2 separate regions of the Homo sapiens genome follow, and region 1 is linked to region 2. Evidence: fine-mapped expression QTL. A gene starts in region 2. The other region holds a variant in brackets. All regions are shown on one strand. Distances are between the middles of the regions.

The links. PIP is the estimated chance that this variant, and not a neighbour inherited with it, causes the effect.
Region 1: its variant is the best candidate, but not a certain one, in a credible set for the expression of LASTR in sun-exposed skin (GTEx, PIP 0.59).

The regions. Positions count from the first base shown.
Region 1 is chr10:5,486,632-5,491,867 of GRCh38, forward strand. No RefSeq gene overlaps it. Among named protein-coding and RNA genes, the nearest start is that of CALML5, 10 kb to the right of the region's middle. The variant G/A (reference allele first, on the strand shown) is at 2,995.
Region 2 is chr10:5,593,365-5,598,600 of GRCh38, forward strand. LASTR (lncRNA associated with SART3 regulation of splicing) reads right to left here and starts at 2,754. Exons shown (of 2, transcript NR_134491.1): 1 at 2,647-2,754; 2 at 1,620-2,215. RefSeq lists enhancers at 2,662-2,956, 3,242-4,114.

The DNA of each region.
Region 1 (5,236 bases), 110 kb before region 2:
GGCCTGCAGGCGGAGGAGAGGCAGCTGTCCCTGCTGACTCCCCTCTCCCTGACCCTCCCCTCCTGGTCAGCACCTTCCTGGCTTGAGAGGAGTCCAGGACTTTCCTTTTCTCCAAATTCTGGAGACAGGCAGGCCCCAGGGTTAGAAGCAGCACCTTCTACCCTGTTCCGATCACAGCCTGAGTCTTGGACAAGGGCTCCTCCGGCTCTCAGTGGCTCCAGGATTCTGAGAACTCTGACATGCTTCCACCATCTGACAGGCAAGAGGCCAGATGGGCCTGGTTGGCCCACCCTCCCGATGGTACCAGCAGTAACTCTGACCCGGCAGGGTGTGGACACGGCTCAGCCTGGTGGGGCTGGAGTCTCTCCCGTCCCCTGCTCACTCCCCTCCCACCTCGTCCAGAACTGCTCAAGGCCCCGGGGTTACTAAGTCAGGCCCTGTCCCTCCAACGCCTTCCTCTCTGCTTCCCCTCCCCACGTCCCTTCCTTTCTCTGCTGACTGCCTCCACCTTCCCTCCTGTCCTAATCAGCTCAGGCTTAGGTGGCCGAATCTGCCTCCTACAGGGCCCATCTCCCTTGCCCTCCTTCATACCACACATCACTGCCAGCATAAGCTTCCTAAAGCACAATTTGGCCGCACGTCCCCACAGGTTAAAAACCTTCCGTGAGTCTCCATCTGATCTTCTGGGGAAGAAATAGCACTAATCTTGGTGACATTATGCAAAACACTTCTGCGGCCCCACAGACGCTGTTCTTAGCACTTTCTCCACATCCCCCACCCCCCACCCTCCTCACAACCACGTTGAGGCGGGTCTCACTGTTACCCCCAGCTACAGTTGAGGAGACTGAGGCAGAGAGAGCCACTGACTTGCCCAAGGCCATATCACCAGGCTTCACTGGGACTTGAAAAGGATCCAGACTCCTTCAGCAAACCATCAGGCTGTCTGCGACGGCATTCGGACCTCTCCCTTACCTCCCAGGCAGCGCGGGCTCCCCAAAAGACACTGACGCTCCCACTTCCAAACCGTCACTCATGCAGTTTCCTCACCAAGAACGCCCCACCCCTGTTGAAATCTGCCCCCGCCTCAGTGCCACTTCCTGGAAGTCTGTCCCCTTCTCTGAGCACCTCCTCGAATGGGAATCCACTGACGAGGGACCTGACCCACTGTCTTTGCATGGCCATTTATGTTACATCTCCTGGGCCCAGAGGCCGGCGCAGCGTCTCCCTCCAAGTCCCTGCAGACTCACAGTAAGGAGAAGCACCCAAGGAAACACTTGTAGAATAGTGAGTGAGTGAATGAAAGTCACCAACACCTCCTCCATGAAGCCACGACCACAAGGCTCCCGGTGCAGGAAAATACTGTTCATCAAAAGCACTGAGATTTGTTTTTGTTTGTTTTGTTTTTGTTTTTGTTTGAGACGGAGTCTTGCTCTGCCGCCCAGGCTGGAGTACAGTGGTGCGATCTCGGCTCACTGCAAGCTCCGCCTCCCAGGTTTAAGCAATTCAACTGCCTCAGCCTCCTGAGTCGTTTGGATTATAGGTGCCTGCCACCACGCCTTAATTTTTGTATTTTTAGTGAAGATGGGGTTTCACCATGTTGGCCAGGTTAGTCTCGAACTCCTGGCCTCAAGTGATCCACCTACCTCGGGTTTCCAAAGTGCTGGGATTCCAGTTGTGAGTCACCGTGCCCGGTCCAAAACACTGAGATTTGACTTCTTCCTAGGCCAAAGGTCATCTGGGCAGCAAGGCAGGAGCTCCCGGATCAGGAAAGTGCAGGCACACCATGTCTCTGAGTGGTGGGGTGGGGACAGAGGCTGGCAGGCCACCAACAGGGCAGCATCTGCTCCCAACCAAGGTGACTCAGACCTCGCCTTGTCCAACCTGCAGGCCTCCCAACAGTGGGGCTCTATAAGGCTGGCGTTCGCCTCCAGGGTTCTCCCCGACACTGGATGCCAACCTGCCCAGGGGCAGAAGGGAGGTTGGGCGTGGGGAGTGCCGGGTACAGTCAGAGTTGCCAGGACAGTTTGGAGCAGTGCCTCTTAATCTTGGCCGCACAGCACCTGGGAGCTTTAAATAGACCCCCACGCCTGGGCGCCCCCACCGCTGACCCACCAGGGCTCAGTGCAGGGGGATGGCTCACACGGCACATTCTCCAGAAGCTCCTGGGGTAGCTTCCAGGTGCAGCCGGGGTTGGGAATCGCTGGCTTATGCAACCCAGCAGAGAGGCGGGAAAGGCAGAGCTGAGATCGGGTGGGGCCACCTGTGGTGGGGAAAGAGATGAGCTCACACCTGGAGATGGTAAACAGTGCAAAAGCAAGAAGAAGCTTACAGAAGGAGTCGTTGGGCCTTTGCCCCAGCTGCAGCCACGTGAGAGGGAAGCCAGGGGAGGAGCAAGGTGCAGGCATCTGTGGGCTGGGCAGGGCCTGACTGCACTGGGCCCAGGCTGGGAAGGCCTCACCTGCTTCTCCAGCGGGAACGGAGGGCGACCTGCGCAGCCTAGGCACTGCGGCCGTGGTTCACATGCAAAAACTAAAAGCTGGACTCATTTCCAGAGAAACTGAGATAGAATACTCTACCTAAATTGTTTCTGGAACACATGATCACCATACCTGTTGGGAATCTGTTCTTGATGAGTTTTGTTGTTGTTGTTTTTATAAAAGGGGGACCCACTGTGGAGAGAGAAACAATGGCTTGAACTCTTAAAAGCTGGTCTTAGAGGTCTGGAGTCCACATCTTTGACTACCTGGCAGGGTGACATGCCTTTGATTCTCCCTATGTTTGGACCAAGAGGGGATGAGTTGGGATTTTGTGATCATACGAGGACTATTTTCATGGTTCTTGGACAACAAAAAGAGAGAACAAGACAGGAGTCCTCTCTCTGCAGTTGCATTTCTGACTCTTCCTCTTGTTGCAGAGTACAACTCTGTGAAGATTTCCTTTAATCCCATCAGCACTACGGAAGCCATCTCCCCCATGCTGGAGATGAGGCCTCCC[G/A]GGCAAAGGAGCCTGCCAGGTCGTGCCATCACAGTGCATGTGGAGGGTTTCATGCAGAATCCAACACACTTGAGGAGCCTGTCATCTAGTTTAAGCATTGATGGGCTTTATTTCACTATTCAGGGTTCTGAGGATGGAGAATAGGCCTTGTCCACTAGGAATGACGTAAGAGGTGCACTCTGGAAGGAACTGTACAAATAGGGAGAGATCACCTTCAGCCATTTGCTTGGAAAAGAGGTGCAGAGGAACCCCCTCTGCGCCAGGCCCGGCTGTGGAAAGCTTCCAAAAGCAGGAGGCATTTGATGTGGAACTTAACAGAAGGATTGGGTCACCAGGCCTACCAGGATGGATATAAACTAGGATTTAAAAGATCCAGGGGGCAATCCAATGAAGAAAATGTATTATTTCGTATATGAAATTTGAAACATGTATTTGGATCAGAAGTAGAGTAATTCAATCTACCGACAAATCAATCTACTGAAGAACCTCTTGGAAGATTTGGGGGAAGTTTTGCTTTACTTGAAATTAGTTTTGGTTTCCCCAATGCTGTCCCACCCAAGTCAACTCCAGTAGCTTCATGAGTGCAGTTCTCCCCTGCTGAATGTCAGTTTCATGTGTGATTCATATTTCAGACTCCAAGCACTTACCAAATACTTAAACCACTTGCAAAATATCCATTTGATTGAGCCAGTGAATAAATCAGTGAATTGAAAGAAGTACTAAAGCAATAGATTTAAGTTGAAATTCTATTAGGGGAAAGAAAGCTGCCAATCTCTAAAATCCTGGACGTTGAAGACGTGTCCAATGGCTGAATCTTGAAATGAACCAGAAGCTCTCTTTCTCCAAAACCATTGAACCAAAATGCTAAAAATGAAACAACAAAACAAAAACAGACAACTTTAAACACTGTCAGGTTATGGTACAATGGTTAGGTGAACTGACTGCCGCTAAAATAATTTACTAAAAGTAGAACTGAACAAAACTAAAAATTTAAACTCAGTAAATAAAACGTCAAAGAAATAGTCAACAACTTAGAATAGCTCATCCAATATGAATTTCTGTGATCTTTATTAAGTATCCTTTAAAAAAAACTTTTTAGTAAGTTGGGAAATACCAGCACGTTTACCATTTGCAGAACTAAGCTTCTGGCAAGTCAATTTTCAGAGAAGCAGCTTTCAAAGAACTGGGTTTTCCTAAGTGACCTGAAGCTGCGCCAGCTGCTCGGATGCTTCCTGGGCTCTGTCTACTCTCTTTGGTGTTCTGAGCTGAGACCGGGCACCCTTGTGGACCCAGACGTGGAGCATAGCCTGGTCTCTGCCCTTGAGGGTCTTCAAGGCCATTCAGAGTCGGCAGAGAGGCCATGTCTGTGCATCTCTCGTAACTCACAGTCACCAGCTTCCGGAAGACATTCCACTATGTGGGTCCCAACCAACCCCACCACCAGACCCCCACCTCAAAACCAGTCCCTGGGCAGAGTATGCCCAGGAAGCACCCCTTGAAGGCAGTCCCCTGACCCCCTTCTGAGCCCTTGAATTCCACTCCAGGTCCTTCTTAGCACCTCGCTCTAAGACCTGAAGTGAGCCACTTCCTCTCCAGTCCCTCAAGTTCCCTTCTTCGTCTCTTGGGACAGTAGATTCAGAGAATCTGCTGCTTTCTTATTGCTTTGTGGCCCCATCAAAGCCCTTCTTAAGAATGGGCTCAACAACAATGAACAACTGGCTTAGAACACCCTGTCTCTGTTATTCTGTCTGCCCCAGACAGGTCTTCTGCCTCCCTAGGCTGTCTGAGTGGCTTCACTTCTCTCCTTCCTTAATGCTTCTCTGATTGCCCATTCCCCAGACCTCCAAATCAGCACAGAGCTTCCTGCCACAGCCCTCTTTGTAGGGGGCTCACCCCTGCCCCCCTCCCTGGGTCCAACTGCCAAGGCCACAGCCCTGGCATGGGCACCCAGACTCCCTGATGCCAAGTCGGCCACAAGCCTGGAGCAGGCCTTGGCTCTGGGATTCCAGACTGTATTCCCATGACATGATGGATGTTCTGAGAGGGACAGAATCGCCGAACTCAGGCCGGGGATCCTGTCTCTCCTTCACTGTTCTTCACTTAGACCCTCATACCCGGGGCAGTGTGTGTGGCTGGGGACTCATGAGTCACACCTGCTGTGAGCACTGAGCACCTGCTACGTGGCAGGGGCTGCACTGGGCCACGTGTGGACTCCACAGGCAAAGGCCACCTTGGGACATGC
Region 2 (5,236 bases):
GCAGCCTGGCCAACATGGTGAAACCCTGTCTCTACTAAAAAAAATACAAAAATTATCTGGGCGTGGTGGTGGGCACCTGTAATCCCAGCTACTCAGGAGGCTGAGGCAAAAGAATACTTTGAACCTGGGAGGCGGAAGTTGCAGTGAGCCAAGATCGCACCATTGCACTCCAGCATAGATGACAGAGTGAGACTCCGCCTCAAAAAGAAAAAAAAGAAAAGAAAAGAGTCACCCTGCAGGAACAATGGCCATTATCTGTCACACGGCTTTTGGACTTACCATTTGCCTGGATGTCTTTGTGTGAAGAAAGCCAAGTCCCCTACCCACCACCTCCTCATCCCCCACACAATCATCTCCATGCAGTTTCACCTTCGTCTTCCAATACCGCACATCTGTGACACGCTGCGAGCAGTGCTGCACAGAAGCATATTTTAAAAGCTTCCTATAACTTCCCCGCCTCTTGTTTCTTTGGTTCAAGAACAGTTGACCCATGGGGCAGGAAAGTATATAAAAATATCCCTATGGGCTGGGCACGGTGCCTCACGCCTATAATGCCAGCATTTTGGGAGGCCAAGGCGGGAGGATCACCTGAGGTCAGGAGTTCAAGACCAGCCTGGCCAACATGGTGAATCTCCATCTCTCCTAAAAATACAAAAATTAACCGAGTGTGGTGGTGCATGCCTGTAATCTCAGCTGCTTGGGAGGCTGAGGCAGAAGAATCACTGGAAGCCGGGAGGAAGAGGTTTCAGTGAGTCAAGATCATGCCATTGCACTCCAGCCTGGGTGACAAGAGCAAAACTCCAACTCAAAAAATAAAAATATCCCTGTGCACCCAGAGGGGGCCCCGATCTCAGGGAAAGGTTGATCTTGGGAGAGGCAGGGCATAGATTAAAAACAATTGTCTAATGCACGATTAAATACGTTCATGGGCTTGCACAGTGTAAGAGCTCAAGAGAGACTTAGAAATAACAGAGTACCTCCCTCCCTCTGCCTTGCAGACAGGGAAAGTGGTTCCAAAAACAGGCTTTCGAAGCCCCAACATGTTTGTTTCTGAGCCCTCACATGGCTTCTTAGCAGTCTTTGGGCTTTCTAGCTCAGGTGCATACACATCAGACACATTTTCATTGAGCTCACAGGAAATCACTGCAGCTCACACAGCTTCCTCAAAAAGGCAAAAATCACCGGGAGAAAGTCACAAGGTTTAAGAACTTTCTCAGCCCCAAAGGGTTAATGGAGGCTGGCAATGCAGCATGATCCCACCCGGGCTTGGACAGGAAAAGAACTCAGGAGCTGTTTTTCTTCTCCGAAAGCCAATCCCAGTGGAGGCACTGGGGTTTTTAAAACCAAATGTCTCTACAGCTTGAAATGAACGACTGCGTGACCTCAGCCGTCACACACACATGGCCCCTGCTGTTAAACCCTGAGCAGGGCTGGGCTCAGGGCATCCCGTAAATATTCGACGTCTGTGAGGCACATGTGGGAGGAAGAGCTGCCATCAGAAGTGGTTTCAGCTGGAAGGCCAGAGTCTCTCTCTCTCTCTCTGTGTCTGTCTGTCTCTGAAAGTTACCGTCATCTGTTAGCAATTTCCCCACTCCCATTAAAGCCAGACACTGGATCCATTTGCGTTGCTGCAGACCACCATAAGGGATTCATTTTTATTGCTTGGATGTGAGTCTCTGAACCACATCAATTACAGCCCTTTGTGTTACCGACCAGGTAGTATGAATGAGACGATGACAATCTTACTGCAGAATGGTTCACAGATTGTACCGAGATGGAATTCTCCGTTCACTGAGAGCAGAGGAGGGAAAAAAATCTAGATTCTAGGCTACAGAGACAATTCAACTCCCACAAAATGTGAGTGCCTTATCAGTCTCAGCAAAACCTCACTCCTGCAGGTGTGGACAGTTGGGACCTGAAACTCAAGTGGAAGGAGTGATTTCCAAAGCTACAGAAACAAACATAACATGATTGTCATTACTAGCAATCATGCATGAAAAATTGAGTCATTAACCCTGTGGAGATATTTCTAAAACACACATTGGACCCAGACTGGAGAACTGAGTTTCCTGCTGCTTCTTCCATGAATTTGTGCCGTGACTCTGGGAACGTCATGCAGATGGAGCCTCAGTTTCCTCTTCTGTCCAGTGAAGGGCTGAAGGGTTTAGATGATCTGAATTTCCCTCCATCTCTAGCTCTCTAGGACTCTAGGCACCTTTATAAAGTGGGGAAATAGAATCATCAGGATAAACTCTTGCAGAAATCATCATACTGGGGCAGTGAGGAGAGGTGAACCATGCTGAGCACTGCACAAAACATTTCGGACAGAAAGTCCTGTGCCTCCCCCAGCTTTCCGTCTAAGACAAGCATGCATGCAATAGCAAGAATCCCTAGGCACAGGACTGAACCAGGACTCCCGGCCACAAAAGCTGCCATGGGAAGCTATAGCTTCTCCAGCTCCTCAGTGGCACCGTTCAGCCCTCAAGGCAGACTCTCACCAGGAGAAGAGCCAGGGTGGCTACGCTGTGGGAGCAGGGGACCCTAAAAGTGCATGGAGAGCGGCCTTCACCCTTGCAGGAAATGCCTGAGCCTCCCAGATGGGCCTGACCTGGCCCGAAGATACCACCCCTCTTAGAGGGGCCTCACCAGCTGACAGATCCATCATATCCCGGCAAAAAGGGGAGTCTGGAACCAGGACTTCACCCACTGTCTTCTCTCTTGCTCTCTTTTGTTTTCTGCAAGTGATGGATGGACGTACTTTGAAGGAAGTTCAGCCTGATAAGTCATTTCCTCCCCCGAAGGCATCTGACTCACCTCTAATTCACCTCCCATGAGGCTGCTCAGGACAGACAATGTGGATTTTTTCCTGAGTTGTAATATACTGTGGCTTCTTCACTCAAGCCCCCACAAGTAGCTTTGCCTGTGCAGGAAACCCAGGCTGGGGCCCTCGGGGCTTGCCGTCATCCTGCTTTTCTGCAACATATCCACCCATCTCCCGTTTCCACTCCAGGAGAACAGAAGGGTGACGCTGCCCAGACTCACAAGAGCTCGGGGTCCAGCTGTGGGGTGCAGCCAGGACCCAATGCCATGTCTGATCCCCACACGGGAGACCACCAGCCTGCTTCGCAAAGGAGTTCAAAGGAAGCAAGCACCAGCCAGGCGAGACACTCATCCAGCTGTGAGCATCACGGCCTAAAGGCAACATGCAGGGGCTCTTTCCCATTTTTAATGGAATCTTAACTGTCCACCAACCACGTCTTCCAGATTTACCCACAAGGCTTGACAGCGTCAGAGGAAAGAAAGGAGATTCTCCCATCCCGTGCTCTTCTTTCTCTCTGCTGGGCGGTTGTGTGTACAGAGCGCAGGCCACCACACACACACACACACACACACACACACACGCATACACACATACACGCACACGCATGCACATACACACATACACACATGCACATACACACATACACACACATACACACATGCAGAGTGCAGTTCGTAGTGGCCATGCATGAGCAGCCCCATCCAGGTGGGCAAAGGGAGTGATGATGAGCAGCCTGGGCCCGAGCTGTGGTCAAGACAGCCCTGCCCCATCGGTTTCAGCCACCCGGAGCGGCCGCCCCACCCGCCTCCTGCAAAGAGGTGAGCTGCCCCTGCCCACTGCTGCTCCAGCTCACACCCGTCATCCGTGAGCCATTACTGACTACCTACAGGGTGCGCCCGCCGTGGTCTGCATGTCCCACAGAAATTACCCAGGGCTGGCCCAGCGGCTCCCAGCAGACGGCCAGGCATGTGCTCCCAGGGGCACTGGTCCTAGACAGATGAGGACACATAGGGACTGACACCCCTGAAAACGCCTGGGGCAGCAGGCGAGTCACCAGGAGGAGGACTCAGGAGCCGGAAAGGAAGGGCCCATCCCTGGAAGCGTCTGAGCAGAGGCTGGGCAGTCCCAGCAGGGCAGTGTCAGAGGGGACTGGAGGCTCCAAAGCTCTGCTGATGCTGAGACCCTATGAGGCTGTGTCCCACCAAATGAGCCTGCTGAGCTCACAGGCCTGCGTCCCACCAACCGGGAGTGCTGGTCCCACAAGGCTTCATTCCACCAATGGGGCCTGCTGAGACCCCATGAGGCTGTGTCCCTTCAACTGGGCCTGCTGACGAGTGAGCTAGAAGTGGATTTCCTGGAAATGAAATCCATGCCATGACCTGAGAAAGGAGAGTGGCTGAGGAGAGGGCAGCAGGGGATGCCCCCCTCATGGGGGGATGCTCCCCACCCCTCCCTTTAGTACTGAGGGACCCCAGCAGCTGCAGAAGACCAGGGACCAGGGGCCGCTGTCATGGCCTGTGTTGAAATGTGAATGCCTCAGGTTTCCTCTCCCTGAATTTTCCCCTTTCCTCTTCCCTGTTTACCTTTCTGCCTCAATATCCCTGAGTACAAATCGCAAGGACACCAACAGCGGCTTCAGTGGGTCCTTGTGTGAGCCAGGCACATGTACTATTATCTCATTTAATCCTGAGGGAGGCGTGAGGCAGGCCGGGGCAGAAACAGCCTGCACATTTTTCTAGCTTTTGGTTCTAAAACCCCAAGCCCCTGGGAGAAAGGGGAAGGTGGAGTGGGCAGAGAGGGCTTGAAGAAGCTTGAGGGGAGAAGGATCTCCCCAACAAGAGATTAATCAGGCCTGATAGGAAGCAGCCAAGGGAGAGGTAGAAACAACAACAGAGGGAAAGAGAGAGAAGGAGAGAGAGAGAAGAATGAGAGAAAGAGAACGAGAGAACAAGAGAGAGAGGAGAGAGAAAATGAGAGAAAAGGAGAACGAGAGAGGAGAGAGAGAGAAGAACGAGAGAGACAGAACGAGGGAGAGAATCAGAGAGAAAGAGAACAAGAGAGAGAACGAGGGAGAGGAAAGCAAGAATAAGAGTGAGAAGAGAGAGCAAGAACACAAGAGAGAGAAGCAGAGAGAGAGAGAAGAACGAGAGAATGAGAGAGACAGAATGAGAGAGAACAAGAGAGAAAGCGAGAGAGAGGAGAGAGAATGAGAGAGAGAGAAAGAACGAGAGGAGAGAATGAGATAGAGATGAGAGAGTGAGAATGCAAGAGAGAGAGGAGAGAGAGAGAAGAACGAGAGAGAGAGAACAAGAGAGAGGAGAGAATGAGAGTGAGATGAGAGAGTGAGAATGTAAGAGAGAGGAGAGAGAAGAACGAGAGAGAGAGAACAAGAGAGAGGAGAGAGAGAACAAGAGA